Linked DNA regions of Homo sapiens: regions 1, 3 and 4 are each linked to region 2. The links come from fine-mapping of genetic effects on gene expression. A gene starts in region 2. Each other region holds a variant in brackets. All regions are shown on one strand. Distances are between the middles of the regions.

Region 1 (8,000 bases), 180 kb before region 2:
CTGCTATTTCCTTGCCAGTTTTCAGAAAACCATTCACAGGGAGGAAGCAGGGAGTCCTTTCCAAACTAATAAGGAAGCTGGGAGCCTAAAGTTAGGATGACAATTTTTCTATCAGCCTGTGAGTGAGTATTTTCTCAGCTAGAACTCCCTGGGGGAAAGCCAGCAGTTTCCTGCTCTCCACTCAAAGACCCAACAGCAGGAGGCCGGGGCCCTCAGCTCTGCCCGGGGAAGCAGGGCCTGCTTTGCACATCGACTGACCTGTGGCCAAAGGGATGAGGCCCTACCCACTTCATCGGGCTGCTGGGCAGGGTGGATCTGAGGAGAGATGGGAGCTACTAACTTAGTAACGGCTCCTCAGTCTCCGGAGTGGGTGGGTGAAGAGCTTTCTTAGTGTCTACGTTTTACAGACAAGGAGGCTGAGGCCCACGGAGGGGAAGAGCTCTCGTCAAGGGTGGCAGAGCTGGTAAGACCTGGAGGGAGGCTGTGAGTCCAAGTCTCCTTCCTCCGTCTCTCCTCCCTTGATAGGCATTAAGCCCTCTCTAAATGTCGGGCTTATCATACTGGGCCTCAGGATGGGTAACACATAAGGCGCTGGGTTTCCCTCTGCCAGGAAAAGCCAGGAAGAATGAGGCCTTCAGCTACACAGAGAGGAAACTGGCGTGGGGAAACATGAAGGGATCCAGCTTATGATCTTTCTTTTTATCATTATTGTTTCCTTTTTCCAATTTAAAGGAAAACTCAAAAGTCTGACTCTAGCACACAAATGCAGCCCCTGGACCACCAGACGGAGAGGCAGGAAAGTGGTTCCTTCTGGCCTTTGGTGTGTTCGCCTTGGAAACCTCTGAAGACCCTCCCAGACCCACTGCTCCCGGCTCTGCTGCCGGCATGTGCACACATGGCACTGACTCTAGCTGGGGCTGGGCTGCTTTTAATTTTAACTTACTCTAAGGAAGTCACGAGCACCTCGGCTCTAGAATTCTCATGCTCTGGAAGCAATGAAGCCCAGAGATGCTGGACTCCCCACTCCAGGGCTGCTGCAGCAGGAGACAGGGCAGCATCCAGGGCTCGCTTCTCTGATCCAGTGAAAAAAGACTTTAGTTCTGTACACTGGAGAAAAACTTCTTCCTAAAAACCTCCTCCCGCTTCTTTACCCAAGGTTTTCAGGACTTTCAACCACATGTTGATATTAAAGAAAACATGCCAGGCTGGGCGTGGTGGCCCACACCTGTAATCCCAGCACTTTGGGAGGACAAGGCGGGTGGATCACTTGAGCCCAGGAATTCGAGCCTGGGCAACATAGCAAAACCCTGTCTCTACAAAAAATACGCTTGCACCAATAATCCCAGCTACTCAGGAGGCTAAGGCAGGAGGATCCCTTGAACCCAGGAGTTGGAGGCTGCAGTGAGCCATGATTGTGCCACTGCACTCCAGCCTGGGGGACAAAGAGAGACCCTGTCTTAAAAAGAAAAACAAGGCTGGGCACCATGGATCATGCCTGTAATCCCAGAACTCTGGGAGGCTGAGGCAGGTGGATCACCTGAGGTCAGGAGTTCGAGACCAGGCTGGCCAACATGGTGAAACCCCATCTCTACTAAAAATACAAAAAAAAAAAAAAAATAGCTGAGCATGGTGGCAGGCTCCTGTAATCCCAGCTACCTGGGAGGCTGAGGCAGGACGATCTCTTGAACCCGGGAGGCAGAGGTTGCAGCAAGCCAAGATTGTGCCATTGCATCCAGCCTGGGCGATGGAGTGAGACTCTGTCTCAAAAAAAAAAAAAAAAAGAAAAAGAAAAGAAAAACAAAAAGCCAGATTCTAATCCAAGTGACTGTCCCCAAAATATTGAAAATCACCAAATGGCCAAAGGAAAAAGAAACCCTGGGGTACTGTGTAAAGGAGGAAATGTTGCTGAAATGCTTTGGAAGACAGAGGAAGGGAGTGAGGAAGCTACTTGGTGGTGCAGTGTGGGGACAGGCAGGGGTTTGCAGCTGTGACGAAGGAGGCTGGGGGAGCTGAGAGCCCTGCACAAGAGCCACAGGGAGCCATACAACACGGGGCACTTGGCACGTGTCTGTGCTGGCAGCTGTGTGGCTCCAGAGAGCACCCCCCGCCATCCAGATCTACAAAGCCCACGGGCAAGAAAGGAAAAAGGAAAAAAACGTACTGGTAGATGTCACGCGAAGAGGGGGCAGCGGTGGATGGACAGCTGGCGGATCTGACGAAGATCGCTGCCGGCTTCCACCGTCCACACTTACAGAGTTTGTCTTCCACAGGGTGTTAGCAGAGGAGGCTGTCTGAACTGAACCCACACGCATGCACACAGACGCATGCACGCACACATACACGTGCACACACGAACAAAAACAGAAACAGAACACTGCGTTATTGATCCTCCCCCTTATGAAACGGTCAGTATGACCCTTCTACCTAGAACCCTCAATGCTTTTACTCCTGTCTCCGGCATGTGGAAGATAGACACTGATACTCGCGAAACCGAAGAGGCTCCAAGGACTATTCTCAGCAGGTTTTCTCAATCCATGAAATTTAAAATTCCTGAGTTTATTTATCAAATATCAGTATCATTTGAAGAAGGAAATAAACAGTCACAATGTTCTCTTGCGAACACTGCACTTGGAGCTTCTGGAACTTCTGCTCCTCTCCACCCTCCCACCGACTCCTTCCCATGGGCTGTGGGAGTCACCACCATGTGAAGAGGAACACCGTGTGCCCAGCTGGCACAGGTTGGGGGCAGAGTGCAAATCAGACACTAGAGGAGGGGCTCTCTCTCCCTCCCTCCCGCAAACATATTTCTGGCTGGAAGCAGACACAGATGACACCAATCAGGTTCAGGTGACCCACAAGAGATGGCATTTTCCAGGTCACAAGCCCTTCTTCTGCCTCACAAACCTCCAAGCTCAGGTGCACAGGGCCCAGGTGCTAGGTGTGACCCCATGTTGGAGGCTGTGCACGGCCTGTAGGGCAAAGGCTAGGCCTAGAAATGGGCCAGGCCACTGGGTCCAGAGGAAGCCTTCGAGCTCCTCCCCTGGGGAGCCAGGTCCGCCCCAAATGCAAGGCTGACACTGTCAACTCCATTTGCTATTTATCTGCATGTGAGAATTCCATCCAAGACCACATGTGGGCTACACAGAGAATGGTGGAGATGGCAGGTAAGGGGTATGACCTACATTACTGGAAGAAGAAATGATGCTAGGGACAGGAACGGCAAAAAGAAAAAGGAAAAAAAATCAAAACCCTTGAATTCCAAGACTTCGGGAAACCAGGAGATTAAGAGTTTACCCCTCCATGACCCAGTGGAACAAAATAAAATCTTTCCTCCCGTGACACACACAGTCAGCAAAAGCCACTGCTGGGAAGGAGGATGATCAAAATCATCTTGATTGTGGGCCGTAGAAAATTGATGCCTGCCTGCAGGATCTGGGAGAGGCGGGGAGAAAGCCGCACCCACCCTGGGCCCCGACCAGCCAGCCTGGGGGTTTGACAGGGAGGAGATGCGACTGTGTGGCTTCATCTTGTAGCTGCCTTCTGTGCTCAGGGACGTCCTCATCAAGCCAGGGATGGACGCGGTCTGGGATGTGGGCTGTGTGGGGACAGCAAGCAGCTGGCTTCTGGGCCTGCCTGGGGGAAGGTCTGCTCTCAGCAGGTTTGTTCTTCGGGGTATGACTCAGTGACTCACATGACAGGTTCACTGTCACTTCTCTGGGCCTCCCTGAATGACAGGGGCAGAGCCGTGTGAGGGTCTGTGAGACACCCAGGACGGCAGGGAAGATGGGCCCAGCAGCACAGCCGAGTGTACGTGCAGCACAAAGCTGCAGCCGTCTGCTCAGCCCTGGGCCAGGTCTCCCGGCCTCAGCCACCCTCACGCACCGACCCAGCCTGCCCAGCTAGCAGCTACCACATAAGGACAGTTTGGGATGTATTTGGGGACGTGGGCTCCACTCCATCAGCGGCTCACAGCGGCCACAATGCCTGGATACATGCTCTGTGCAGACTCTTGTCCTTCCTGGGCCCCCCGCCCCGCATCAAAGTCTCAGCAGCCTCCTTCATGTGGGAAACCCTCTGAAGGCCATGGCCACGACTGGAGCTCAGCCCAGAGCTGAGTGGGTCACTCGCCGGACCTGCCTTCAAGAAGCACCGTAGCCAGCTGCTCTTCAGGAATGAACAAATTACTTAACTTCTGAGAGCTTTGGTTTGCGTATTTCTAAAAACAGAAAGTGTCACCTGTTGAGTCAAAACCTCCAGGTTACAGCTGAGGTAAGAAAAGCATGCTTTTTGCCCTAAGACACTGGTAGGCCCACAGGGCTGGTTTTGTATTTTACAATTAGGCCGAGCATCGTTCCCCAATATCTTTTATGGGGATCATGGGTAAGAAGTAATCGCAGGGGCCATGAGCTGGACCAGATGAAGGCAGAAGAGAAATAAAAAGGAAGAATGAAGGCCTGGGAAGGAGTGGAGAAAGGTAAACAGAAGGGTGCAGAGGGGAGACCTGAAGGAGTGTGTCTTTTGGCCCAGCCCCGGGAGCCCAGTTGGCCACCTCAGGCTGCCCTGGGGGAGTTCCCATGTTACCCAAGCCAGGCAGATGCCACAACTCTGCCCAGAATAAGAGTCAAATCAAGAGACTCTACCACCATCTGGCCTGATAAGAATGATGGAATCCCTTTAGGAAGCAA[A/G]CAGAAAATAACTACAAAACAAAAGAGCCCAAAGGTCACTGAGTTGGAGGCAGGGCAGCTGCAAACTTCCCAAACCACAAAACAAGACCCTCTATATATTCACAGGGATGACGGACAGCTTCATACCTTTGCCAACATTCCGTGGAGGAAGCGGGGGGGCGCTGGTGGTGCTGGGGGCTGCAGGCTGGGCGGGAGGTGGGCTGCCACTCAGGAGGGCTCCGTAAGTCTCATTCTGCAAGATGCTGGGCATGAAAGCCCTCTGCTTCTCCTTGGCAAGGTTTGCAGCATCTCTGGCCAAAGATACAGCGTTAGACTGAAGCTGGTTGGAGCCCAGCTGGTAGAAGCTGATGGGCCGGTCTTCCCGCCGGTTGGGACTGGGCTGCAGGAGAACATTGGGGCAGAGGCGTGTGAGACAAATATGAACTGCTCCTGGTGATAACATTCAACACAGGGGTGAAAACCTCACTGACACCAACTCTGCTGGGCCTGGTACCATTTGAGCTCTCAACTGTTGCCTGAGAGCTACAAGTTGCGTGAGAGCTGCAAGAGTGAAAATTCACTCCTCCTTGTGTCTCGTGAAGGAAACACACACTGATATGGTTTGGCTTTGTGTCCCCACCCAAATCTCACCTCGAATTGTAATCTTCACTTGTCGAGGGAAGGAGGTGACTGGATCATGGCAGCGGTTCCCCTCTGCTGTTCTTGGGATAGTGAGTTCTCACAAGACCTAATGGTTTTATAAGGCAGTTTTCCCTGCTCTCGCTTGCTCTCTCTCCTGCCACCCTGTGAAGAGGTGCCTGCTTCCCCTTCTGCCATGATTGTATGTTTCCCAGCCATGTGGAGGTGTGAGTGAATTAGACCTCTTTCTTTTATAAACTACCCAGTCTCAGGTATTTCTTTACAGCAGTGTAAGAACTGACTAGTAAACACACACATACCAAAAAATCTGTTAATTACAGGTTAAAATTCTCCATTCTGTGATGGATTTAAAATATAAGCTATTTATCTTATGAGTCGAAGTTATCTCAACCTAAGTCAGCATTTTCCCTGAAGTTCCCCTTCCCAAACATGCCTTCTTATGCTACCCCACAGGGTGGCCAGCTCTGGCCAGCCCGCTGCACTCAATCTCCAACAGCTATATGGCTCATTCAGCAGAGATCGATGTTTTCCTCCCATATGAACAGGAGCTCCTGAGATTCCTCCAAATTAGGGTTAGCAAACAGTGGCCTATGGACTACCACCTGTTTTTTGTCAGTAAAGTTTTATTGGAACATAGCCATGTCCTGTCATTTAGATACTGTCTAAGGCTGCTTTTGAGCCATCCTGGCAGAGCTGAGTAATTGTTAACATGGACTGTGACGCTTTAGGCCCGTAGAGCTTAAAATATTTACTATCTGGCCCTTTAAGAGTTTGGCCACCCCTGCTCCCCCCTGAAGGTTATATGGTTTTTTTTTTTTTTGAGACAGAGTCTCTCTCTGTTGCCCAGGCTGGAATGCAGTGGCGCAATCCCAGCTCACTGCAAGCTCCGCCTCCCGGGTTTACGCCATTCTCCTGCCTCAGCCTCCTGAGTAGCTGGGACTACAGGCGCCCCCCCACCCACCACCAAGCCCGGCTAATTTTTTTGTATTTTTTAGTAGAGACGGGGTTTCACCGTGTTAGCCAAGATGGTCTCAATCTCCTGACCTCGTGATCCGCCCGCCTCAGCCTCCCAAAGTGCTGGGATTACAGGCGTGAGCCCCCGCGCTCGGCCGGTCATGTGCTTTCTTGGAAGTGAATGCATGGAATGATGACTCAGGTAACTTAGACCTAACTTCTATTTCAAATGCCAGCTTCATTAAACTAGGTATGATTGTGAGCAAATGACTCAACCTTGCTGACCACATTCTTGTCTGTTCACTGGATATGACGAGTGCTTTTCTAGCACAATGCCAGGTGCTTAGCAGGTGCTCAGTATGAACTGTGGCAGCCCTGCCTCTCCCTCACAGGACCACCAACCCTTTCTAGGTTCTGGACAAACCAATGGTTCAAACCCAGCTCAGGTGTGCAGAACTAAGCACCCAGTGGTTCTTCACACATATTTCTAAATTGCAAAGCCCACGGCTGCTGTCTGCTGAGAATCAGGTGAGCAGCGTGGATGAGTCTTAGGACTCCACACCAGCCCCTGCTCTTGTGCTTTTCCTTGGACTATGCAACCTGCTTCATCACTGCTCATCAAATGGGAATGTGGCATCTGACCGCTTGATGAAGAGGCAGGCTGGGGCAGACTGCTTCCAGCTTTTTTTTTTTAAGGCAGGTTAAGTATGAAATCAGTCAACTCTTCTCACTTTGACAGTGTTTTGTAGCTAACTCAGTGAAGTAATTTCTTATTCTGTATTCTAAGAAGCAGTTAAGTATGGATGTTAACTCCATGAGCAGACAGTCCAACAGGTTTCAGAAATGCCATCTGGTTACCTACTGACCTATCCATCCATCTAATTAGATATCCTCAATACACATCAGAACATTAATGCATTACAGAAAAAAAAAAAAGCCAAACCATGAAAATGTGTTTAATGTGGCATTTGCCACTAATTCAGCACAGAGCACATTCCAGACATGCCTCGAAGCACCATGCTGAAGGACAGATGGAAGTGGGTCGCGGCTAGGAGCCAGGGCTTTGGGTCACAAGGCCTAAGTCTGACTCTCAGCTCCAAGTCCTGCGTGAAGGCAGCAACCTTCCTGGGGCTCACCCCTGCGTATGAAGCAGTGAGGATGGTAAGAAGGGAGCTGGAGGAGGAGGCAAGAGCCTTCGTGCAGTCCCAAGCCTGCCTCTAAATAGCTGCTTCACTTTGGCCAAGTCAACTTTTCTCTTGAGGCTTCAATATCCCAAACTGATAAAGGAAGGGGTTGGACCCAGTGAGCTCTAAAGGTCGTCTGATGATTTCAGTTGATGTTTTTATAAGATCAACCAGGAGAATGTGATCACCTAGACTGGGGGAAATCTGGCTCTTTATGACATGACTCCATAGCAAGAGACCTTCCTCTAAATCCACTGGAATCAACCCCCCCGCCACACACACCTTTCCTTTGTAGCAAAAGGCTGCCTATAAGTACATAATTAGCCATTCCTTTAAATTAATGGGTGCAGGAGCTGGGAGACAGGAGATGGTAGTGGGAAGGGTAAAACCAAGAGCCTACTGAGATCAATGAAAGCATAAAGTAAGCTACATTTTCATTTCTATAAAACAGCTTTCTGCCTTAATTACAGATTAGGACCCACACTGTTCTGGATGAAGCTGATCAAAACTCTTAATGGTTAGCAACCTGGCACAGACC
Region 2 (8,000 bases):
GCTGGAGTGCAATGGCACGATCTCGACTCACCGCAACCTCTACCTCTTGGGTTCAAGTGATTCTCCTGCCTCAGCCTCCCAAGTAGCTGGGATTACAGGCATGCGCCACCACACCCAGCTAATTTTGTATTTTTAGTAGAGACAGGGTTTCTCCATGTTGGTCAGGCTGGTTTCGAACTCCTGACCCCAAGTGATCTGCCCGCCTTGGCCTCCCAAACTGCTGGGATTACAGGCGTGAGCCACCGCACCTGGCCTGACAACAAACTTTTAAAAAATACACATGGGTCACCTGTAATCCCAGCACTTTGGGAGGCCAAGGCGGGCGGATCACAAGGTCAGGAGATCTAGACCATCGACCATCCTGGCTAACACGGTGAAACCCCATCTCTACTAAAAATACAGAAAATTAGCCGGGCATGGTGGCGGGCACCTGTAGTCCCAGCTACTCGGGAGGCTGAGGCAGGAGAATGGCATGAACCTGGGAGGCGGGGCTTGCAGTGAGTGGGGATCGAGCCACTGCACTCCAGCCTGGGCGACAGAGCGAGACTCCATCTCAAAAAAAAAAACACATGGGTTAACAGATACACGGTAGTGTTTCATTCACTCACCCATTCAGCCATTCATCCATTTCCCTGACACTTCCCCCCATGTAAATCCCATCCTCACTCCAAAAGCCCTCACTGGGGCCTGTGGACTCACTAACTATATAATCTGGTAACTAATTGTCTGGCAGCTTCTGTGCTATGTACTATCTTCCTAAACCCTCACCACAATCCTCTGAAGTTGATAGGTATTATTAACCAGACTTTAAAGCTGAGGAAAATAAGAAAATGTTAGGCATCTCACTCAAGTTCACTCAGCTGGCAAGCTGTAGAGCCTGAACTTGAACCCAGGTCAATCTGACAAAGGAGTAATTTAGAGAATTCGGCATTAAGAAAAGTAACAGGAAGCAGCATGGTTTCTGAAAACAGCAGGAGCCAAGTTCAAAGTCCACTTCAGAGCTCTATAACCTTTGGCAAATTACTTAACCTCTCTGAGCCTCAATTTCCTCGCCTATAAAGCAGAGATAAGGACTGAATTCAATACCTGTGAGTTTCATAGTACAGGATAAGGGCCCAACAGTTACTATAATAATATTCCAGCAACAAGTATGCAAATCAAAACAGCACATTTTAATTGTAAAATGATTCTTTGGCAGATAGAACCTACATTGGAAATAACAGATTCAAAAAGGTTAATCAGTTTAAAATTAGTTTGCTGGCCGGGTGTGGTGGCTCACGCCTGTAATCCCAGCACTGTGGGAGGCTGAGGCAGGTGGATCACCTGAGGTCAGGAGTTCGAGACCAGCCTGACCAACATGGTGAAACCCCATCTCTACTAAATACAAAAAATTAGCTGTGCATGGTGGCGCATGCCTGTAATCCCAGCTACTTGGGAGGCTGAGGCAGGAGAATCGCTTGAACCTGGGAGGCAGAGGATGCAGTGAGCCAAGATTGTGCCATTGCACTCCAGCCTGGGCAACAAGAGCAAAACTCCGTAACAAATAAATAAATAAATATAAAATTAGTTTGCTAGTTCCGTGATTCATTTGTTTAAACATAAGACCAAGAGCTTGCAAATTTTATTTATTTGTTAAATGAGTAACTTTATGTCATGATACCCTCTCATGTTTCGTCTCAGTATGAGAAGATTTTTGTTTAAAACCAAAATACTGTACACATCAATTGTTATTAAACCATACATAGAACAAGTTTTGGTAATAGACACGAACATTAGACACCTGGGAAAGAGCATTATTTAAAGAAATCCACATTGATTTACCTCAGAAAGTGAACAACTTTCAAATTTAGTTATAAAACCAAGCTCACACATACCATCATCATAGCATGTATGTAGATTTGCTTAAAGTGAAATAAACCTGAAATGATTTTAATTTTTCCATTTTGAGACTTGAACCAATTCTTGGGCTTAGACGGCAGCATGAAGCAAGCTTGCAATTTAATGAAATGACCAAATCCAGTCTCTTTGTAATCTGCTCAGTAACTGAGCTCTAGGGTAATCTCCTGCACAGCATACAAAAAGAGCTTTGGAATTATACACTGTAAACTAAAATTAATCAGAGAAAGGTATGCCAATTTTAATAGCAATTCTTGTTTGCTTGGCTTTCCAACATCTGCCAGTGTTAATAATATTTAACTGACAAACTGCAGTGGGGAAAAGCAACAGAACTTTAAACATAATCAAGCTTTCTAAAGAAAGACATCATGCACAATGCTTCCTTCCCTTAAGAAATATTCAGCTACCTTTTTGGTTGCAATCATTCCATAAACATTATTAATGGTGTATTCTCAAAACACCGTGCTTTTTAACTGGCACTTAGGAAAAAATTTCATTCACCCATCCCCATCTGCCTCATTTGAAGGCATCATCTGTAAGCCTTGCTGCTAAAAGTAGAATTAAGTGATCTGGGGAATCACCGAATTCATAGGAAAGGTTTACATGCAGCTCTCTTCCGCCAAATTAAATGGAGAGAAGGAAGGCTACCCAAGTTATATTAACAGGATTCAGAATGCTGAATGTTACTTTTGACTCCCTTTTATTGACTGTTTACAGCTACAAAGAAAAAATTTTTCCATTAAGGGAAAACATTCTGGATTTTTTTTCAAGCAATTCCTAATAGCAGATGCTTTGTTCAAATGGGAAAAAAAAAAAAAAACCAGAAAAAAAAAATAACGCCATTGCTTCATTTAAAGCTCTTTGGTGACACCCACCCCCCCACCCACACACACACTCCTGCTAGCCCAGGCGTCTTCTGCTAAAACACCTGCAATACCCAATTTTAAAACTGTAACCTGACATCCTGGCCCAGAGACATTTAATCACAGATTCACTATTGCCACACGTGTGACTTGTAAACCTATTCTGAGCCGAGCAGAGTGCTAAGCACTTCACACAGTCTCTGATCCTGGAAAGGATGCATTACTAATCCCGTTTGATGGGTAAGGAAAAGGAGGACTGCAGGTGAGGATGTGCCTCAAACCACAGCCAACGGTGGCCCCTGGACTCACAGACTCTGCCCCTTTCCCCACGGCTTTAATTTTCAACCAAGCTTCTTCGTTCCTACGTGTTCCTCTCCCCAGGACCTGGAGAGCGTACTGCTTAGCAGCTAGGCGTGATGACTTTGCACCTTGAGAGCACTTTACTAAAACCAGGCCTTTTCCAGGTTGAGGGGGAAGGGCGGCATTCCGGGTTCAAGCAGGTGAGACCCAGGTAACCGGGGAGCGGCTCCTGGAGGCTTCTTGGACCCAGAAGCGCCGACTCTCACACACCTTGCCCGCAGTTCCTTCTCCGGGCACGGGTGGAGCGCAGCCAGGCCGCCCTGGCTGAGGCGGGCACGCCTTCCCGGGCAGCCCGGGATGCCCCGGACCCGCGGACCCGAGGGTGGGGGCCCTGCGGCGCTCGGGGGCTGCGGCGGGGAGCTCGGAGCGCGGAGCTGCCCCCGCCGGTCCACTTCAAGAACAAGTTGATAAGGTCCGCACCGGGTACCAAAGACCCCGGGCGGCGGCGGGCGGCGGCGGGCAGCGGGATCCCCCGCTCGCCGCGGACCCCGACTCTGGACAAAGTTGGCCGCGCTGCGGGGAAAAGACCAGGCCGCGGAACCCCGCGAGGGCCACGAGGCCGAGAGAGGGGAGGTCTTAAAGAGGCCCAAGGTGGCCATCACCCATCTCCTCCGAGCCACCTAGGCGGGAACAAAGGGCTTCTGTCTCGGGCAGGGTTGGCCCGGCCGCGTCCGGCTTCGGAGCAAAGAAAGTTTTCTCGGGATGCGGATGCGGGAGCGGCGGGCGGGGCTGGGGCGCGGGATACCTGCGGCCGGAGCCGCCGCGCAGGCCGCCTCACCTCCTCGATGGCCGCCACAGTGTTCCGGCACTGCGCCGTGCGGGTGGTGAAGCTGGAGGCCGTGGGCGCCTTGTAGTCCTCATGGGTCTCGGCCACGAATTCCGACACGGAGATCTGGTCCGGCATCGCCTCGGCGCGAGGGCGCTGGCGCACAGCCGCAGGGGCGCCGCCGCCTCAACTGCCGCAGCAGGCTCCGACCGCCGCTCGGACACCGCCGCTGCCGCCGCCGCTCCGGCCCGCGGACAAAGGGGAGCGCCGGGCGCGGGAGCCGCGCGGGGCCTGGCGGCGGAGCAGGGGCGGCGCGCAGCCCCGCGCAGCTCGGCCGGTCCGCCCGCCTGCGCGCCGAGGGCTCCGAGTCCGCTGCCGCCGCGTCCTCTCAGAGCGAGCCCCGAGGCGGGCGCGCACAGCCGGCGGGAACTACCCGCCACCCAGCCGCGGGCCCCGACGCCTCCCGCGGAGAGGGGCGGGTCCGGGCCGGGGGCGGCGGCCGGCCGGGCGTGGGGCGGGGCGGCGGGAGGACCGGGCCGCCAATCGGCGCGCTCGCCGCTGCCGCGCCGCCGGGAAGCGGATCCCGCAGGAAGGAAGGCGGCGCGCGCCCCGGCCCGCCGAGCCGTTCCTGGCCGCCGCGCGCCGCATTGTCTCGGCGTTCCGGGCCCCGCGCGCCGCGCCCATGCCCCGCCCCCAGCCGGCCCGAGGCCCCGACTCCGACCCGCTGCCCGCGAGGGTGCGTGTGGAGGTGCGCCCCGCCGGAGTCCGGCCTTGTGCGCGCCAACCGCCCCCCGCCCACGGCGCGGAGCACCTCTGGGCTCCCCACTTGAACGGCGGGCCGCGCCGGCCCATGAGGAAAGCGGGGTGCGGAGCTCGCCCCCTGCCGGAGGATGCGCTCCGCCGGCGGGCACCCTGCGGGGACCACAGCCGGACGCCAGAAGTGACCTGACCGTGAATGTGCGCTTTGCGTGCAGTCATTGCATCGTCGCAGGCCTAGGAGACAGATGAAGAGATGGGTGCTTATTTTATATAGGGGACACAGTGTGCCCAAGAGCACAAGATAAACGGCCGGGTGGGGATTCAAACCCATGTTCCCTGACTCAAGTGTGAGTGCTTCAGAGCGGTGAGGGGCCCCTACTAAAAGTCCCAGTCGCGTTTCCTAGGCTGCCCAATGATAGGTATTCTCGGTTATAGTTTTAGGGTACTAGGCCAGGACCCACCCTGGGAAGGCTGCTGAACGCCCTGAAGTGGTATTCCCGCAGGCAGAGGAGGGAACCGAGGGGGTGCAGGAGGAGGAGGAGGGGGAGAACGTGCTACAGCAGCCAGCCAACCTCACACAAAACCGGGCCAGTAAAGGGTTCGAACTGGTACCGATTTTTATTTACAGCTCTTAAGGAAATTCTCGGTTATACTGAAAAATCCAGAAGCTCTGAAGATACCAGTCAAATAAAATCACACCCTATAACTCTACACCAGACTTGTGGCATGGTTTCTGTAGCTGCCAGCGGTAAAACCAAGAGAAACTTTACAAAAACCTTTTGTGCATCTGAAAAGGAGGAAGTGTGAGAGACACTGGAAATTCAATATGTCAGACAAAGCCGTCTCCTGACACTGCAGGACAGTAGACCAGTCAAACAATCTTTTTAAAGCCCCCATGTAAGAAGTTGCTATATGAGGTGGCAGCTTGGGTCAGACATTATGTATGGCCTTTGGTATTTTAGTAGCACTGCATGTAAAATTTAACTTTCTAAAATCGCTGTATTCGTGGATAGCTTTTATCATTGCACTAGACAACAAGTTACAATTTAAAAATTGTATCTGTTTCTTTTTATGTTTTTTGATCCTTTTGGTGTCTGAAGTTTTCCTCTATTTGCAACCTTCTACAATTCATGTTTTGTGTTTATTATTTATATTAATACATCCTCTCCAACACCAGGCAGATTCTGTTCCCGCCTACCTAGTTTCCCAGCTACAGTTTTTGACATGAGGGAATATGCTGAATAACTTTTCAAGTCTTGATTTGTAGAGGGCTGGTCTCTATGAGGCTATGAGGGATCTAAGAAAGAAAGTCGGGTTTTTCCTTGATGTCTAGTACAGCATTAACCAGACTAATCAATACTTCTACAAGGACAAAGTTAAGCTTGGTATTCTCTGTTCTCTCTTTATATACAACTCCGGTTCTTGTTTCTTTTAGTTTAATTTTGCAGATACAGGAAGCTTTAGTAGCCTCAAAAAAATAAAATTGCAAAGCTGTGTTGCATTGCAAGGCTGGTGGAAAACAACAATTAGTTACCAAGTTCATTGGTGGCCTAAAGAGGATACCAAATTGGTAGAATGCTAGAGCCATTTATTCCTCCATCATCCCTTAGAAATCTAACTTGCCTACTGCATAAGCCTAGAATTAAAGCAAGACCAGAGCAAAACATAGCTAATGCCTTTCTGAGATTAATATAAGAATGAGTAGCTTCCAATAAATAACAATAAAATTAAAGTTCAACATGGATCAAGGAAACACTCTACACATACTCATTTTTTTAAATGCATCAAGAGAAGAAGAGTATGCTGGTAATGTCCTTACAGGCCTATACTTCCTTAACCAGAATTACTAAAAATCCCTGAAAATGTAGCTTTACAAATAGTTCTTAATAGTAAAATTCATCTGAAATGAACTGATGTGAGGCTATGTGTGGTCTTGTTTATCCTACCTCATGTGAATATGTATGTTTTGCTGCAAAATATAAACATGGTTGATTATGAAGTATTGCCCCAGACCCTACTGGGGGTAATTAGGAATATGTTATTATATGCAATGTGTTACCTTTCTAAAATCCGAAAATTTCTGAATCCACACATATCTGGCCCTTGGGGTTTCAGTAAGAGATTGTAGGCCTGTATTATTTTTTTTTAAAAAAAAAGGCGAAGAAAAAGGAGGAAGGAAGAAGGAGAAGGAAAGGAAGAGGAAAAGGAGAGAACGAAAACGTGATGTTAAAGACATCGTTTCCAGAGAAGAGACTCTCCTCCCAAAAATGAAATTTTTAGCGGCCCAGTGAGATTGGCCAACAGCCCATTTTCCAAAGGAATCTTCTGCCTCTAGTAGTTCACAAGAACCTGGGATTTATCACTCTCAGATCAAGGTGTAAAATATGTTCTTGACTCTGAAATTTGCTTGAGGGTTGGCTGGTTTACACAAGACTTGTCCAGTTCACTTGCTATTAACTTGTAAATGATTACTCTTGGAATGGGCAAATATGTGCTTTGAAAGAACTATGGTAAGAAATAGTAACAACAACCTAAAAACCCTGGTGATGTGAACATGGAAGTATAACTGAAAGTTTCTTTTCGTAACTTAATAATACTCTGCCCAAAATCGTGTTGCTGAAGGGACCCATTTATCCCCAAAGTGAGAGAAGATTGAGTACATTTACCACAGTTATCTCACTTTAGCACCCAGAAACTATTTTACAAATGAAAACTTGGGTTTTGGTAATAAATTGCTTCTCTGTGATAAGTAAGCTAGCCTCCCTAGGCCGGGCGCAGTGGCTCACTCCTGTAATCCCAGCACTTTGGGAGGCCGAGGCGGGCGGATCACGAGGTCAGGAGATCGAGACCATCCTGGCTAACACGGTGAAACCCCGTCTCTACTAAAAATCCAAAAAATTAGCCGGGCTTGGTGGTGGGCACCTGTAGTCCCAGCTACTCAGGAGGCTGAGGCAGGAGAATGGCCTAAACCCAGGAGGCGGAGCTTGCAGTGAGCTGAGATCCGGCCACTGCACTCCAACCTGGGCGACAGAGCGAGACTCTGTCTCAAAAAAAAAAAAAAAGAAAAAGAAATAAAGCTAGCCTCCCTAAAGAGTGTAGCTTGGACTAGCTAATTTCTAAGGCGCCTCCCCGTCCTGGTGTCCTGGTGTTCGTGCTGCCATTTTCTGTGTTTTATGTTAGTTTAGACACAAGAGAGAAAAATGCCACAAAGCATTGCTAAACATTAGTACTGAGACTCTAATTATTGTCCTAGACTTTTGAGAATGAGGCATGTTTTAGATGCCATTGGGAGCTAAATTTTTGAGAAAGTGGTCATTTTGTTAAGATGGTAGATTTAGATAACAAGCAGATTTATT
Region 3 (8,000 bases), 57 kb before region 2:
ACCTGTGGGCTCCGTTTAAAGCCAGAGCAATAACGAACCTCCCCCCTTGTGGGAATAAAGCCAGGCCTGAAGAATAGCAGGTGTCGCTAAGAATTAAGATCAAATAGACGTCTGAGCTAAGTCACAGCTGAGGAAAGTGTGTGCCTAAGGACAGATGAGAAGGGCGTGTTTTGGTATTATCTTAAAAAATTAAAATTACTCAGAGTAAATATACATCCACAACAGAAGACATGGACAGGCTGTCCTAACACTCCTCAAAACAGCCCCCAACTGGATAAACCGAAATGTCGATGGTAAAATGAATAAACTGATGATGGACATTCGTACAACAGAATGCTACACAGCAACGGAAGAGAACAAACTTACCCCACAACACAAGTGAACTTGACAAAAATGTTGAGCAAAAGAATACATGCAGTATAAAAAGTTCAAAAACAGGCCAAACTAAATTGTTTATGTTTAGGGATATACACCTTGTTGGCAAACTACAAACTGAGGCAAGCTGAGGGCTGCAGTCAGGGCAGGGGAAGCTTCTGAGGGCGTTACGATGGGACAGGCCTGCGGGGCGCGCTTGGAGTGCTGGCCAAAACCAGGCTTTATAATCATTCTTTTTTTTTTTTTTTTTTTTTTTTTGAGATAGAGTCTTGCTCTGTTGCTCAGGCTGGAGTACAGTGGTGCATTCTCGACTCACTACAACCTCTGCCTCCTGGGTTCAAGCGATTCTCAGGCCTCAGCCTTCTGAGTAGCTGGAACTACAGGTGTGCACTACTACGCCCAGCTAATTTCTGTATTTTTAGTAGAGACGGGGGTTTCACCATGTTAGGCAGGTTGGTCTCGAACTCCCGGCCTCAAGTGATCCACCCACCTTGACCTCCCAAAGTGCTGGGATTACAGGCATGAGAAACTGCACGTGGCCTTCATAATCATTCTTTAAATGTCATTTGTATCAATAGCAAAGACATGGAATCAACCCAGGTACCCATCAACAGTGGATTGGATAAAGAAAATGTGGTACATATACACCATGGAATATGACGCAGCCATAAAAAAGAACTAAATCATGTCCTCTGCAGCAACATGGATGCAGCTGCAGGCCCTAATCCTAAGCAAATCAACACAGGAACAAAAAAACAAACACTGCATGTTCTCACTTATAAGTGGGAGCTAAATGTTGAGTACTCATGACATAAAGAAACAAACAATAGAAACTGGGGACTACTAGAGAGCGGAGAGATGTGGAGAGAGGCTGAAAAACTAACTGTTGGGTACTATGCTCAGTACCTGGGTGATGGGATCAATCATGCCCCAAAACTCAGCATCATGCAATATATCCCACGTAGCAAACCTACACATGTACCCCCCGATCTAAAATAAAAGTTGAATTTTTTAAAAAAATCTCATTGAAAAAATTTTTAATGCTATGTGTGTGTATATATAAGATATATTATTAAGAATACAAGTAAAATTAAAGCATCTTTTAAAGAAAAGAAATTAGAGTTGGCGAAAGAACCAGAAAATGTTGCCAAAATGAAAGTGAACTTCAGGAGTAATTTATTAGCCTAGCATGTTGGTTGACCACAGGAAGCAAAAGGGACTTAGGAATCCCTTAGTACCATTTCTAAACCATCAGAGAGAAGCTAGAGACAGAGGAAACTGAATGCAGGTCGGCCAGCTCAGGCCTCGGGCTTTTCTCCCCAGCATCAGGCGCTTCCCACTAACTCTGGGAGGTGGTTTTGGGCAATCTTACTAAACTACTTACTTAATCCATCTTACAAATAACTGTTTTTCTGAGCTCCTAAAGTAGCAACTTTGACGGCAGCAAACATAAGAGAAACACTTCTTTCATTTTTCTCCTAGATGGCTTCCTTTCTGAGATTCCATTCCCATCTTGACTAGAACGGGGTGGTGGCAGAGTTCACACCTCTGCAGAGGAAGGCTAGCCTGGGTAACAAGGTGCACCCAGACCTGCAGGCCCCCCAGCAGTGAGGGAAGCTGGCCTGTGTACATGCAGACGCCCACCACCCGCACAGGAACAGCACTGAGGACAAAACACAAGTAAGGCAGCTCTGCAGAAGATGAAAAGGCAACTGGCACAGTGGCTCATGCTTGTAACCCCAACACTTTGGAAGGCTGAGGTGGGCAGACCACTTGAGCCTAAGCATTTCAGACAGGCCTAGGCAACACAGTGAGACCCCATCTCTACAAAAAGTAAAAAAATTAGCCGGGTGTGGTGGTAGGTGCCTGTGGTCCCAGTTACTGGTGAGGCTGAAGCAGGAGGATCACTTGAGTCTGGGAAGTCGAGGCTGCAGTGGGCTATGACTGTGCCACTGAACTCTAGCCTGGGCAACAGAGTGAGATCCTGTGTCCAAAAAAAAAAAAAAAAGATAAAAAGGCAATCGTTTTTATAAAAATTCCAATTTCAGAAATAGAAAATTACAAGCTTATGGGCTGGGTGTGGTGGCTCACACCTGTAATCCCAACACTTTGGGAGGCCAAGGCAGGGGGTGGGGGGGTGGATCACTTGAGGTCAGGAGTTCAAGACCAGCCTGGCTAACATGGTGAAACCCCGCTTCTACTAAAAATACAAAAAATTAGCTGGGCATGGTGGCACGCGCCTGTAATCCCAGCTACTCGGGAGGCTGAGGCAGGAGAATCACTTGAACCGGGGAGGTGGAGGTTGCAGTGAGTCAAGATCGTGCCATTGCACTCCAGCTTTGGCAACAAGAGTGAAACTCCGTCTCAAAAAAATAAATACATAAATGAAAATCACAAGCTTGTTTATTAAATCCATTACACGCACAGACACACACACACACACAAATTGTAAAAGCAAAGAAAAAAATACTTATAAAAGAGGATAGACAAGTGATATATCAAACACTTAAAACTCTGTATATAAAGATACAGAAAGAAAATAATCATTGTTGTCTTAGGAAAAGTTGGAGGAATTTTTTGTTTTCCCACTTTTAAACTATCATTAACATGAATACATTATTTGATAATTTTTTCGAATTAAAGAAAATGAAAAGTACTATCCTATACTTTGTTACCCTTTTCTCTTCTCCTCCCATCAAGCAGGGTATTGAGGTCTTTAACTCTGAGCACAAAAATGTGTCAAAGGGACAGATTAAACAATAAAACAAAAATACTCAAAACTGTAGTCCCTCGGTCTCCATGGGGGATTAATTCCGGGATTCCGTTGAATTCCAAAATCCAAGGATGCTCAATTCGTAATGTAGAATGTTGTCATATTTGCATGTAACCTACACACATCCTCCCACATGCTTTAAATCATCTCTAGATTACTTATATCTAATGCAATGTAAATGCTATGTAAACAGTTGTTACACTGTATTTTTAAAAATTTGTATTTTTCATTATTTATTTATTTTTTTGAGATAGGATCTCACTTTGTCCCCCAGGCTGAAGTGCAGTGGTGTGATCACGGCTCACTGCAGCCTCCACCTCCCGGGCTCAAGTGATCCTCTTGCCTCAGCGTCCTGAGTAGCTGGGAGCACAGGCACATGCCACCACACCCGGCTAATTTTCAAATTTTTTGCAGAGACGTCTCCCTATGTTGCCCAGGCTGGTCTCAAACTCCTGGGCTCAAGTGATTCCCCTGTCTCAGCCTCCCAAAGTGCTAGGATTAGAGGCATAAGGCATTGTGTCTGGCCAAAATTTGTATTTTTTAAATTGCTGTATTAGTTTTTATTGGATATTTTTTCTTGAATATTTTCCCCTTGAGACCCTATGTGACTGAACACGAGGATGCAAAACCCACAAGTGCAGAGGGCCAATGGTACACAGGGAGAAAAAAACTCTGGAAGAGGCAAAGGACTTAGTTATAGCGCGCACCTAGATGAGGAGAGAAGACGGTGACAGGAGACTGAGTTTTCGCTATCACCTGAAAACTTTACCACAAGGATATATTCACGTATGACTTGCATGGGAAAGATTAATAAATGATGAGCGAGAAGACAGCTCTGGGTGTACAGAGGAACAGCACATGAATACAGCCTGCTGGGCTGAATCACTGTCTCCAACACCCTGTGCATCAGCCACAGTGGCCGTCAGAGCTGGGGACTCATAATGAGAACAGCAGAGGCCCGGACACACTGGAAATGCCATCCAAGGAAGGAAGGTTCCTGATGGGGAAGGGGACAGTGGTGACGCCAGCACGGGCCCCCCCAGTCTCTGGAAGACATGCCTGCAGAAGCAAAACCTTTTCCCAAGGCCAAATACTAAAATATACCTCCCTCCTTCCCCACAAGTTGTTTCTGCAAAGAAGTTCCAGCAGTACTTGTGTTTATTATTATTATTATTATTATTATTATTTTTTTGAGACAGGGTCTCACTCACTGCCCAGGGTGGAGTGCAGTGGTGTGATCTTGGCTCACTGCAACCTCTCTTTCCAAGGCTCAAGTGATCCTCCCACCTCAGCCTTCTGAGTAGCTGGGACTACAGGTGCATACCACCATACCTGGTTAATTTTTGTATTTTTAGTAAAGATGAGGTTTCCTTAGGTTGGCCAGGCTGGTATTGAACTCCTGACCTCAACTGATCCGCCCGCCTTGGCCTCCTAAAGTGCTGGGATTACAGGTGTGAGACACGGCACCTGGCCTTCTAGCAGTACTTTTAAAAGGGAAAAAAATGGAGAAAAAAATACTTAACCTATTATAGAAGAACCAGGCAAACTGTGCCCTCAGCTGATGACCTCCAGACGGCCGTCAACTG[T/C]GCCTGAAGTGGACGGTGTCATGCGGTATGAACAGATAAGTGAGAAAAGAACCCATGTAGCTCTAAACCCACACACACTATGAAAAAACGACGCATGAACAACGAGAGGCTGCAGCCTCCTGCAGTTTAAGGAAGCAGCGCCCACAGGCACTCCCGGGAGGTCTGTGCCTCGGAGGCTTCGGTGGGAGCGCCCCATGGCTTTCATGGGCTTCGCCAGGATCCCTATCTTAGAGAAACGGAAACAGATGACAGTAAACTCCAATTCTGTCAAAAGGCTTCACATCCTGACTTTTATTTAGGGGGAAGAAAAGTCCTAGAGACTTTTCTGGGAGCTCTGGGGGAGTGAGAAAGGAAAAGCCACATTTTGGCAAGATCACCACTGCACAGCAGCAGCACAAACACGGCAGCGTGGGGCAGCTCTGGGCAGGACCCCCCCAGCCAGCCTGGTGCCCTGCTTTGGGGAGAGCCACAGTGGCACAAGGGGGCCTGGCCTGGGGTTCCCTGACACCCACATTACTGAGCTGTGGCCCCTGGGAATGGCAGGAGAGCAGACTCGAGGTAGAAAATGGACTAGCTCAGGAAAAGAATCACAAACAAGAGGGGACATGACACCAGAAGGTGCTGGGCACATTACTGACAGGCAGCAGGGACACCGAGACAGTGGAAAGCCAGCATGCAGCCACGGCCTGGGCCAGGCCCTCCAGCCGTGGCGATGCAGAAGGCAGCCGAGCTCAGAGTCTGGGAAGGTGACCTTCAGCTGGGCGTGAGGTCAGCCTTCCACATCTTCCCAGTCCCAGAAGACAATGGAATCCTAAGCCAGGCTGATTTCCCCAGGAAACGAGGCTCAAGCCACATGAACTTCACTTTAGTCAAATAAACAGGGGAGAGGAGATGTAAGATAGCCGAGTTTTCTTTCTGAACCCCGCGTGAAAGAGACTGAGGACTTTGATTCCTGAGGCCATGGAGGTCAGCCTGGAGACGCCATCATCACACCGTGTGCTGGGGCTTCTGTCCCAGTCGGCATGCCAGGCTCTGCCATCCAACTGGGCTGCCACTGCTGTCCACTAGCGGTCACATTTGTGTGCTGTGTTCCTTTAAAAAGTACACCTTGTGACTGTGAACAGAGGCTTTAAGGAATGGATGCATTAAAAATGAGAAAACCCAGTGCTGGATCCCTTTGGAGACAAGTGCATCAGTTACAAATCACTGGTTCTGGATTCTGGAATGAGACTGACTTGGTTCTAAACCAGGCTCCAATTACTAGCCGCGTGACCTCAAAAACGGACTCCACCTCACTGACTTCTGTTTCTTCATCTATAAATTGGGAATAACAATACCTGCCTCACAGGAGATCACCAATGCTTATGTGTCTGCCATACAGTCAGCACTCAATATCTAATAGTGATTACCAGTGTCCTCCAGTTCTCGGAGAGGCTAGGTGTAAACTACGCCAATTAAAGTGGCCGTTAAGAAGACGCTGTTACCCCAGGACCGTCTCAGTCATTACGACAAATACTTTTCAGGTCTGATAATGTTTAGAATGAGAAAAAAATCTCTAAGAACAAAAAGACTTTACAGCTTATACCAGCCTTTCATTTCCACTAATACATTTTTTTTTCCATCAACATTTAAATTTTTCAAAACTTCATACAGGCATGATGGCACGCGCCTATCATTCCCAGCTACTGAGGAGGCTGAGGCAGGAGGATCGCTTGAGCCCAGGAGTTTGAGTCCAGCCTGGGCAACGTAGCAACACCCTGTCTCTAAAAACATTGTTTTTCAAAACTTTTCCTGGTGTGCTCAGGTGTTTCTGACTCCCCACGGGGAGGGGCACATGGCAAATGGTGGGGTGAGGCGCTCTGGTCCAACTGGCCTCTCTCTTGAACACTGAGGGTTAAAGGAGCAGGGCATGAAACCCCAGGTCTTAAGTGCAGGGGTGAGTAGGAGTGGCCACCGGGGTGTCCACCCATCCCCTCCTCACCTACCCTGACTGAGGTAACCCCAGGTCTGCCCCTCTCCCACCTGGGACACCACCAGCGGGGCCTCTCCCCTGCATGTGGCAGTCCAGCCAGAAGGAACTCTGCCCCCTCCCTCCTACACTCGGCCACACTGTTAAAGGTTGGGGGCAGCACTGGGCAACCTCCAAAGCTCCCAAAGTGCTCCCAGGGAAAGAAAGGCCTACTGTGCCACTCAGCTCAGCTCACTAGCATTTGAGATAAATACTTTTAAGTTACCAAGGCAGCAGTAGGTGTGTACTCTAAAATCACACCTAGGGCCCAACTCCAACTACCATACAGCAATTTACACTCCACAGAGCACTTTTACTTCCATTATCTTTACTGCAATATTTACAACCACTTGTGAAATCACCACCTCTTTCCCCAGCTTAAAGGAGAAGAAACTGACTCAAAGAGTTTAAGTGACTTGTCCAAAATCATGTGTTTGGCTTTGAACCGATGAAATGCTGGGAGAGCTCCAGCCAATGGAGGGAGGACGGAAGGCAGCTTCCAGAGCTGTGCTCCCCCTCCCACTTCCCAACAGCCTCACTTCCAGAGCCAGAAGCGCTGGCTTTCTCTAACATTTGGGGAAAATAACCACCCGGCATTACCCCTGCTTTCTCTAAACCCTGTTCCACTAACCCCAGCCCAGCTACAGGCAAGGGGGCTGCTACTTCCACACCAAGAGTGCTGTCCACCCCTTCACCAAGAAAGCTGCCAGTGGCTCTCCTCCACACAAGCCAGCTCCTGCCACCCCAAGGGGCTGTCATACGGCTCCCAGCACACTAGCATTTGAAGTTCACCAGGGGCACAAGAATCTAAAGTTCACCAGGGACACAGGCACAACCCCCCTAACCACCCTGGGTAACCAATTCCTTGTTTCAGAATCTTCTGAAGGGCCAGGGTGGCGGAGAAGCAGATAGAGTAGGGGCAGGGTCATCATTTGCATGTGTCCAGGTTACACAATCCGGGGCTCTTCCTGGGCTTTTCAGAGGGAAAATTAAAACCCTGCTATCTTTAGTCTTTCATTTCTCCATCTTCAACTTCTCAGTTCCTGTTTCCCATCCAAAAGACTTGACCCCATTCCCCTATGGTAGAATGGGAAGCAGGGAGGAGAAAAACCCAGAATAGGGAAGGGAGAAGAAAGGCAGGAAGGAACCACCAGGATTGCTGGGGCCCTGCACAAAGCCAACCTCTGTATGCAGCAGAGATTGTTTTCTAAAAAAGGAGTGTGACGATGCAAACAAGGTCATGTGCCTTTTAGAGCCT
Region 4 (8,000 bases), 170 kb before region 2:
CAGGGAGCCTGGGCTACGGGCACAGGAAAGGCAGACAGTCCCCGAGTGAACGGTTTCTGTAAATCATCGCCAAGGTGGTGGGACCTGGCACCGTCCCTGCCTACATGGCTGGGGAAGCCTTAGCAGAAGGTCATCAGGGAAATAACACGATGATGGCAGAAGAGGTCAAAAGGGGAGGGGGGCATCCCTGTTGTTGCTGAGCATGTGGGGCCAAGGTGGGGCAGTGCACTACCGGGGTGAACCTAGAGCCCAGCGTCCTTCTCACGTCCCACTGGCTGCGCCGAGGCTGCTGTGCTAGGCCGGCCAGCTGTGCTGGATGCAGGGCCTCTGGATGCCTGTGTGACTCATCCATCCTGTCCCACGGGAGGACGGAGGCTGAGCTTTTCTCTATCATTATTTGATATTCCCTCCAGGAAAGGGAAAAGTCACTTTCCCAAAGCCCAGAGTCCCCAGGCTCCTCGGCCTGTTTGCCCTGGGAATACCCTCTGAAAACAGGCTAAAGGGGAATCTTGAGATTTTCAAAAGTTCTTCCAACATATCACAAGACCAGGTCACCCACAAAAGGTGCTCAGGCTTGGCAGACATGGGACAGGCCCTCAATCCTAGCAAACATGGCCACTGTCACATTCTGAGGAGGGGCAGTGAGCTTTGTGCCCCTGCACAAAGTGGAGACAGAAAGGCGATCTCAGGAAGTGGCACCTGCTGCTTCCATGAGAAGGAAACCAATTACATTTTCAATATCAAAAAAGGAGTTTCTTTTTCACCAAATTGTGGGCATGGGGAGCGGGGGGTGTGTTTCATTTTCAGAATTCTCCCCCACTTTTGTCCTCCTTCCACTCTGGAAAAAAAGAAACTGGGACCTTCCCTCTCCTGCCCCCTGAAAATGTGCATGGAGGGAGAGGCATCACGCAGCTATCAACCAAATGTTTACGAAACCCCTGCTGCGTTCTAGGAGCCGGGCTGGCACTCAGAGATGGGGCATCAGGGCAGCTTCCACCACGAGTCCAGTGAACTCAGCCTCCTCAGGAAGAAGCTGCAGGTCTTGGGGTTGACCACCCCACACTCCCCTACTTTCTGGCCATTTCTTCACTCCTCTGCTCAGAAATGGGAGGAAAAAGCAGAGGACACAAAATGCAAACTATCCCATGGCTTTTGCATTTTGGAATTTTCCATTTCCTTTGGAGCAATTTCTGTGGCTTTTAACAGCACCTCCTCCTCCTCCAGTACACACATGGCTCAAACCACGATCAGGGAGTCAAAATACACGTTGAGGGGTCTTGAAGTCCAGCCTTCAGCTGCCAGGCAGGTAACACATGACTGAAGCAATATGCCCCAAACCACGGGGACTCCCAGATCTGTGGTAAACTGCCTGTGCACATCTCTAAAGGCCATTTCTAATCAAAGCATAAAAACAACTTCTCGACCCAAACAAAACACCCATAATCCAGTGCTCTGGTTTCTAATCTCTGGCTCAGACCATGGCTAATGTGTGGATCCCTCCTTGCCTGCTACCTCCCTACTGCTCAGGACACTGCTTGCGCAGTACGATGACCTGGCTCACAGGATGAGGCGAGGACGGCCCCTGTGCACAGAGGGTGGTCATGGGGTCCCCAAGTTCAGTAGCCATATCTACTTGGTGTCTCCCTGAGTACCAGACACTAGAAGTTGGACCCTGCAATTACCACAAAAGAGTTTCTAGTGCTTTTTTAAAGGATTGCCATGGAGTACCTCACACCTGGCAGTCCTTTTTCTGTCTTTAATTCATGTTTAGAACTGGGAAGGTTCTCCTGACAACACATCAGAAGCGATGAGGCAGCGTCCGATTCCTTCCCCAGAAATACCAAGGAGAAAACGAGTGCCTCCCTTAATTTCAGAACACCTACCTGTTCTGAACTAAAAAGTCTACAATGTGAAGAGAGGTTCGATCCACGGATCTGACTGCAAGGTGGAGGGCCGTTTCATCCGGCTCCTGAAAAACCAAACAAAGGCATTCCAGAATTCTAATGGGAGCATTCAATTCTGTGTCCAACACCGGTGAAATCGTGTACAACTCTTCCAAAAGTCTTTTATCTTTCCCTTCGAGAAACTTATCTCTTACATAGAGTCTCTTTAATCTCTACACAAGCTCTTTGCCCTTGGGAACGTGCAATTTGGAGATTCGTCCTGTTTCTCCTGACTCCATGGGAAATAAATGAGAAGTTCAGGAGTTTCATTTCTAAGTCCTCTCAATCGACCTGTCCCCATCCCTGCATCAGCACCACAAGGCAGATCCCTGCCTGCAAGCAAGAATCTTGTTCAAAGGATCCAGGAAGGTCCCCCAGGCCACCTACAATCCAATCTCTTTACCTGCTCCTTGAGTAGAAACATATGTTTCTTAAGCAGGCTTAAAGTTTTGCGTTCTACACTTACAGACAAGGCTACGAATGCTAATAACTGCACTGTCTCCAACTCATACTGGGGATTCCCCAACTCCACTGCCTTTTCTGAAAGTACACCTGGCAGGTGGGGGAGAAGAGATGAACAAGGATTGTTTCAGCAGGTGGGTGGGTGAGAGAACCAGAGGAGAAGGACAGATACAGAAGACAGGAGGTGAGGGCAAAGGAAGGTGCTTCCCAGGCCGCCTGCCCTGCCTGCTGGGCCCTCTGGCGGCAGCACAGCTCAGTGCTGGGCACCCTCCACACTGCATTGGTGGGCATGAGTTCTTTCTGGGGATGGGGAGAGAGTGGGACCAGCTCAGAGCCTGCACGGACATGCCTGTTACCAAGAGAAAGATGCTGCAGCCGTGAGGCATCCTTGCTGATAGGCAGCCAGCCCAGTCCTGAGGTCAGGAGGTTCCAGGGGACCAAATGTGCATCTACAGGGTATTTGTGGACCAGAATCTGGACACATGCCACCCCACTTGGGTGCTGGTATGTTACTGCAAACCCACTCCAGCTGGATGCCCACCCTCTCAAGACAGCTCCCCCAGGAAAGGAGGGGTCTTGCTCCTACTCTATTCCCTCTGAGGGGGAGCACAGTGGGGTGTGGGTTCCAGGGAACCGCCCCTCTCAGAGAGCTTCTCTCGTTAGCATGAAGCTCAGGTTAAACCTGCTTGCAGATGAGGGGTCCCTCTCAGGCTGCCTAGCTTCTGAGATGTCTTCTCCTCCACCTGGAGATGGGTTTTCTTTCCAGAGCTGGCATTACATTTTTGGTGTAAGAATAAACCACTAGGTGGGTACAAAGTTTTAGACAAGGAGAATAAATCCTGCAGATCTACTACAAAGCCTGGTGACTCCAGGTAAGACTACATAGCGTCTATTTCAAAACTGAGTCGATTTTAAATGTGCTCTCCATTAAAAATGGATGAGCCTGTGAGGTAATGGATATGTTAGCTAGCTTGATGTAATCATTCCATGATGTAAACATAGATCAAAAACATCACAGCATACCCCATGAACATAGATACAATTATTTTCCTACTGAAAAGAAAAAACCCTAGTTTATTCTACCCCAGTACCCCTCTCCGTGCCGTCTTCCTCTGGAGAATTACCCAGCTTTGGTCAGTACTGCTGATTCCACAGACCTGCCACAGTGCCCCAGTTTTCCTTTTTTTTTGAGACAAGGTCTCACTCTGTCGGCCAGGCTGGAGTCCAGTGGCACAATCACGGCTCACTGGAGTTTCAAATTTCTGGGCTCAACCGATTCCTCTCACCCCAGCCTCCTGAGTAGCTGGGACTACAAATGTACACCACCATGCCTGGCCAATTTTACTTTTTTTTTTTTTTTTTTTTGTAGAGATGGGGCCTCCCTATGGTGCCCAGGCTGATCTCAAACTCCTGAGCTCAAAGGATCCTCCGCCTTGGCCTCCTGAAGTAAAGTACTGGATCCCAGGCATGAGCCACCGTGGCCGGCCTTTTTTTTTTTTTTAAAGTAGCAACAACCCACACTCTTACATGTCCGTTGGCCAGTGGGATTTTTTCCGTAAGATCCACACCATCAGCATAAGCTTGGAGCAATCCAAAAATATCTCTCGTTTTGACGGCCTCGCAAAGACTGTGAAGCTTCGCCGCGTTATCCGCGTGCTTCTTCCTTGCGTATCTCCTCTCGATGTACTTGGCTGTGATGTAGTCCTTTCTTGCATTCCTGAAACCAAACGTAATTGCCTTGCAAATCATGAAGGGCTTCTACCCGCCGTCCGGCCTCCCTTTGTCTAAGGCCATGTTAACGGTTCCTGCGCCATGTCCCTGGTAAGCACCGCTGGCCCCGAAACACAAAGCGGGAGTGGCCGCCATGTGGTTCTACGGCTGCACTGGTCTTCACTGCGACCTCCTGGGAACTGGCCAGGGGGACAACTCCCCATGTTCTCTCAGCCCACCCGCCTCTCTGCCTTGTCTCCCTCCCCTCACTCCTAAGTTCTGTGATCTGACCTCACTGTCGCCCTCGTCACCTCCACACCCTTCTTATTCAGGTCCTTCCAATCCGCATGCCCTGCGCCTCCTCCCCCAGGAAGGCCCTGCCCCTGCCCTCCATGCAGCCCTGGCCAACCTCTGTTCCAACATTCTCTACATGAAGGCCTGCCTGCCTCACTGCCCGACAGGCCCATGAGCTCCTTGGGGCATGGACTATGACCTCTTTTTTGTAGGCACCATGCCTGGTATGAAAGGCACTATCAGATGAACTGAAATGAAATGGCAGTCCTCTTTGTGTTCTACTTTCTGGCCTTTATGTGGCAACATGCTCAGACTCCGCCCCATCCAAAGAGCCTACAGAAGCAGGAACAAAAGGGGGCCAAAGAAGCCTGAGTTCAAATCCCACTCCCACCACACACTGCTGCTTTGAACTTGAATAAGTATTTCATCTCTCTAGACTTGTAAGTCTGACTTGCGAAAATGCACACAATACATCCTCACAGTAGCACCATGAGACGTATGTGCGTCAACACACCTGCAGCACACACAGTGGGTCC[C/T]GGGCCTTGGAAAGACCCAGTGAACTTACAAGAGGGAGAGCGAAACAGCAGCTCACTGGTCACAGAGTACATGCATTTTACAATCCCAATTCTGAAGGTTGAGGGTCACTGCCCAGGGACTCTTTGAATCTTGAGAATCAGGCAAGAGCCAGGCAGGGGCAGATCAGTTGCATCCATTTGTAACACAGCACTGCCTACAATCTGAGGACAAATGCGGCTGCTCCCCTTCGAGCTGGAGTCCCCGCACGGTTCCCTCCTGACCTCCGCTCTCTCACTCAGCTGACTATGGCAAGGGGCCATGGCTGCTGGAGCAGTTGTTGACTTTTCTGTACCTGCCCTAAATCCCCGTGGAACAACTGGCCCCCCAGAAGGGGAGCCTGAGCTCCCTGGACATGCCACTGGAGGCAGGGAGTAGAGATCCTGTCTACCCTGGGGTCCCTTGAAGATGGGCCAGCCTAAGATGAGAAGCCATTACTCCCACAGCACCCAGACGGAACTGAGTGGGCAGAGGTCTCTTGCCAGCGTCTGCCAGGCCTCAAATCTGCTTGTCCTTGGGTGCATGTGGCTCCTGGACACGCCGCAGCGTGAGGCTGGCTGGTGCAGCTGGAGAGGAAATCACGCCCCAGGGTGCCCGTTCCACCTGAGCAGGCAGCATGCTTCACAGCCCAGGAAGGACTTCCAGGGGCACCTGGTGAACTTGTGCTCTGGCACTTTTATCACACTGCCTCCCTCCTGCTCCGGCTCCAGTTCTGCCCGCTCTACAGGGCCTAGGTTAAGGCGGGTGCCTCAACGTCCCCCGGCACATGCTCCCCGTCCACACAGCGCTAACCCGTGCACTGAGCTCACTGCGGTGCTGGCTGACTTGTGTGTGAGATACGTGGTCTCAGTGGGTTCCCTCAACAGTGCCATGAGTTTTCATCTCCACCTGTAGGCACAACAGGCCCTCGAATAACAGCATTTTGTTATAATGTTAAGAAAAAAATCAATTCCCAGGCAGGGTCCCTGTCTGTGTGGAGTCCACCTGGGTTTTCTCTGGGCACTCCGGTTTCCCCCACATCCCAAAGCTGTGCACGTTCGGCTAACTGCTGTGTCTCAAAGGCCCCACTGCGACTGAGTGTGGACGTGGGTGTGACTGCGTCCCACAGTGGGACGGGGTCCTGTTCAGGGCTTGTTCCCACCCTGGACTTCAGCTGCCAGGACATGCTCCAGCCACCTCTGACCCTGAACTGGAATAAGTGGGTGAATCATTATCTTACTGGTTTTTATGATCTTTCTTTATCCCACTTAGTAGCCAGAATCTTTCTTAAATGTATGCATCGCTCATATTTCAATGTTTAATATTAGAAGTGTTCTGGGCCTTTATTCAAAAGTTTGGTGATGTTCTCATGATCAGAAATACATGGTAGGAACTGAACTCTGGTTTACATCAATTGGCATAGGGTAAAACTGGTTTCTTATACATCATTTTGCTTAAAGTCACAGGTTTCCAGAAACCTTTGAGTTTCTGGAACATTCAGGATTTACTGTACACTGAAGTCCATAAAGGGAAACTGGATTCTGTTTCCTCAGGCAGCTGGTGGGCCTACAAGGGAAGACCCATTTTATTCCTGCAGGTTCTCCTCTTAGGGCCTCCAGCACAGTGTGACACCCAGGGAGATGCTCCATTCCTGGCCTGGCGAGTGTCATGGTGGGCAGCCCATTTAATGATGTAAATGCCTCTTCTGACAGGCAGTTAGACTGGACAGTTGTCCAGTTTCATGCACTTTCAATCATCACTGTGGGACAATCATTACTGCGACCTCCACAGGAAAGGGATAGAGAGAAAGTGGACTTCCTTTACTTGTTTTTTAATGTATTTACTCATCTGCCCAGGGCTTGGAGGCCCCGAAGGCAGCTCCTACACAAACATGGGCACAGGTCTGTTTAACTCCACACATGCCCCCTGGTTTTGTGAAGGAGGTTTGCTTTGCTAATGTGATCCCTCAGATGGGGTTTCACCGTGTTAGCCAGGATGGTCTCGATCTCCTGACCTCGTGATCCGCCCACCTCGGCCTCCCAAAGTGCTGGGATTACAGGCGTGAGCCACCGCGCCCGGCCCTCCCTCTTTTTTTTAATGACAGGCTTTTGCAGAAAAACAATTAACATAATGATACATTTGGTGTTCAGAGGAGGGGCTCTCCTTACACTTCTCAAGGACAGGGTGTGTATAATGGTCCCAAGTCACAGGGAGAAACAGTTCTGGCTCCTGTGAGCAAATACAAGCCTAGCTTCCCTGCTCCACCTCCCCCAGTTACACGTCCCTGACACCCCCAAGATCCGTCTTGGGATTCACAGGCCACTAGAGGGTGTCCTTGGTTTCCCCTTCAACAGATTTATCTGCAGATGGTGTGCTGTTCTGAAATAAAGCTAGAAGCAGTGTATTCCTTTTCATCTGGAAGTAAAATACTAGCTTATTTAAGCAGGCACAGAGCTGGGAGTACTTGTTTGACTCGCTGATTCATTAAATAGTCACTGGTTCACCAGAAGCAACATATTACGGTGGGAAAAACCAAAATGAGTAAGAAGTAATTCATCAGAAAAATATATGTAAATGCCTGAGTATACTATGAAGTGGGATGAAATGTTTTAAAATAGAGCCAAATGCTATAGGAGCACAGAGCCAAGAAAGTAATTTCAGTTGAGAAGGAATGGAAGTAGCTGATGTTTCGCCATCACACGGGTCATCCGCCCTCATTTTGAAAAAAGCCCGGGGTTGGGGGATGTAAATTTCTTTTTCAACAGTGCCAAGGCTGGAGGAGGGCTACAGTGCAGACAGAACGTTCATACTGAAGGGTTCCACATTGACAGTGTTCATTTTTTAGAATCGCCTAGCCCCAGAACAACCAAATGCCCTGCTTTCGTTAGGTACCCCTGGTGCTTGGAAGAAACGACACACACTTTGTTCAGAACTGACCGATATGACAGCATTACAGGGTGCTGGTACCGTCAGTGTGAGATGAAGCAGCTGAAAGAGCAGGTGTCAACTGCACAGCAGGAGATGACCTCGCCATGCTGG

Direction of the effects. Positions count from the first base shown, and alleles are read on the strand shown. Sizes are in standard deviations (SD) of each study's normalised expression. Not every link is listed here.
In carriers of allele C in region 4, the expression in visceral fat of the gene that starts at base 4,316 in region 2 tends to be lower than with T alone (small effect, 0.29 SD a copy in GTEx).

The links. PIP is the estimated chance that this variant, and not a neighbour inherited with it, causes the effect. A credible set is the group of variants that fine-mapping cannot tell apart.
Region 1: its variant is the best candidate, but not a certain one, in a credible set for the expression of ASAP2 in tibial artery (GTEx, PIP 0.79).
Region 3: its variant is the best candidate, but not a certain one, in a credible set for the expression of ASAP2 in whole blood (INTERVAL, PIP 0.65).
Region 4: its variant is the best candidate, but not a certain one, in a credible set for the expression of ASAP2 in visceral fat (GTEx, PIP 0.85).

The regions. Positions count from the first base shown.
Region 1 is chr2:9,385,358-9,393,357 of GRCh38, reverse strand. It overlaps ASAP2 (ArfGAP with SH3 domain, ankyrin repeat and PH domain 2), which reads right to left. Exons shown (of 28, transcript NM_003887.3): 21 at 8,000; 22 at 4,812-5,064; 23 at 2,162-2,296. LOC124907730 (a long non-coding RNA gene) reads left to right here and starts at 5,170. Exons shown (of 2, transcript XR_007086203.1): 1 at 5,170-6,480; 2 at 7,933-8,000. RefSeq lists an enhancer at 1-508. The variant A/G (reference allele first, on the strand shown) is at 4,686.
Region 2 is chr2:9,203,128-9,211,127 of GRCh38, reverse strand. It overlaps ASAP2 (ArfGAP with SH3 domain, ankyrin repeat and PH domain 2), which reads right to left and starts at 4,316. Exons shown (of 28, transcript NM_003887.3): 1 at 3,898-4,316. The coding sequence starts at 4,023. RefSeq lists enhancers at 3,304-4,234, 4,235-5,167 and silencers at 4,597-4,780, 4,527-4,786.
Region 3 is chr2:9,260,531-9,268,530 of GRCh38, reverse strand. All of the region lies in intron 1 of ASAP2 (ArfGAP with SH3 domain, ankyrin repeat and PH domain 2), which reads right to left. Among named protein-coding and RNA genes, the nearest start is that of ASAP2, 58 kb to the right of the region's middle. The variant T/C (reference allele first, on the strand shown) is at 4,735.
Region 4 is chr2:9,370,877-9,378,876 of GRCh38, reverse strand. It overlaps ASAP2 (ArfGAP with SH3 domain, ankyrin repeat and PH domain 2), which reads right to left. Exons shown (of 28, transcript NM_003887.3): 17 at 3,933-4,122; 18 at 1,884-1,969. Among named protein-coding and RNA genes, the nearest start is that of ITGB1BP1, 49 kb to the left of the region's middle. RefSeq lists enhancers at 1-149, 4,314-4,862, 4,863-5,411. The variant C/T (reference allele first, on the strand shown) is at 4,946.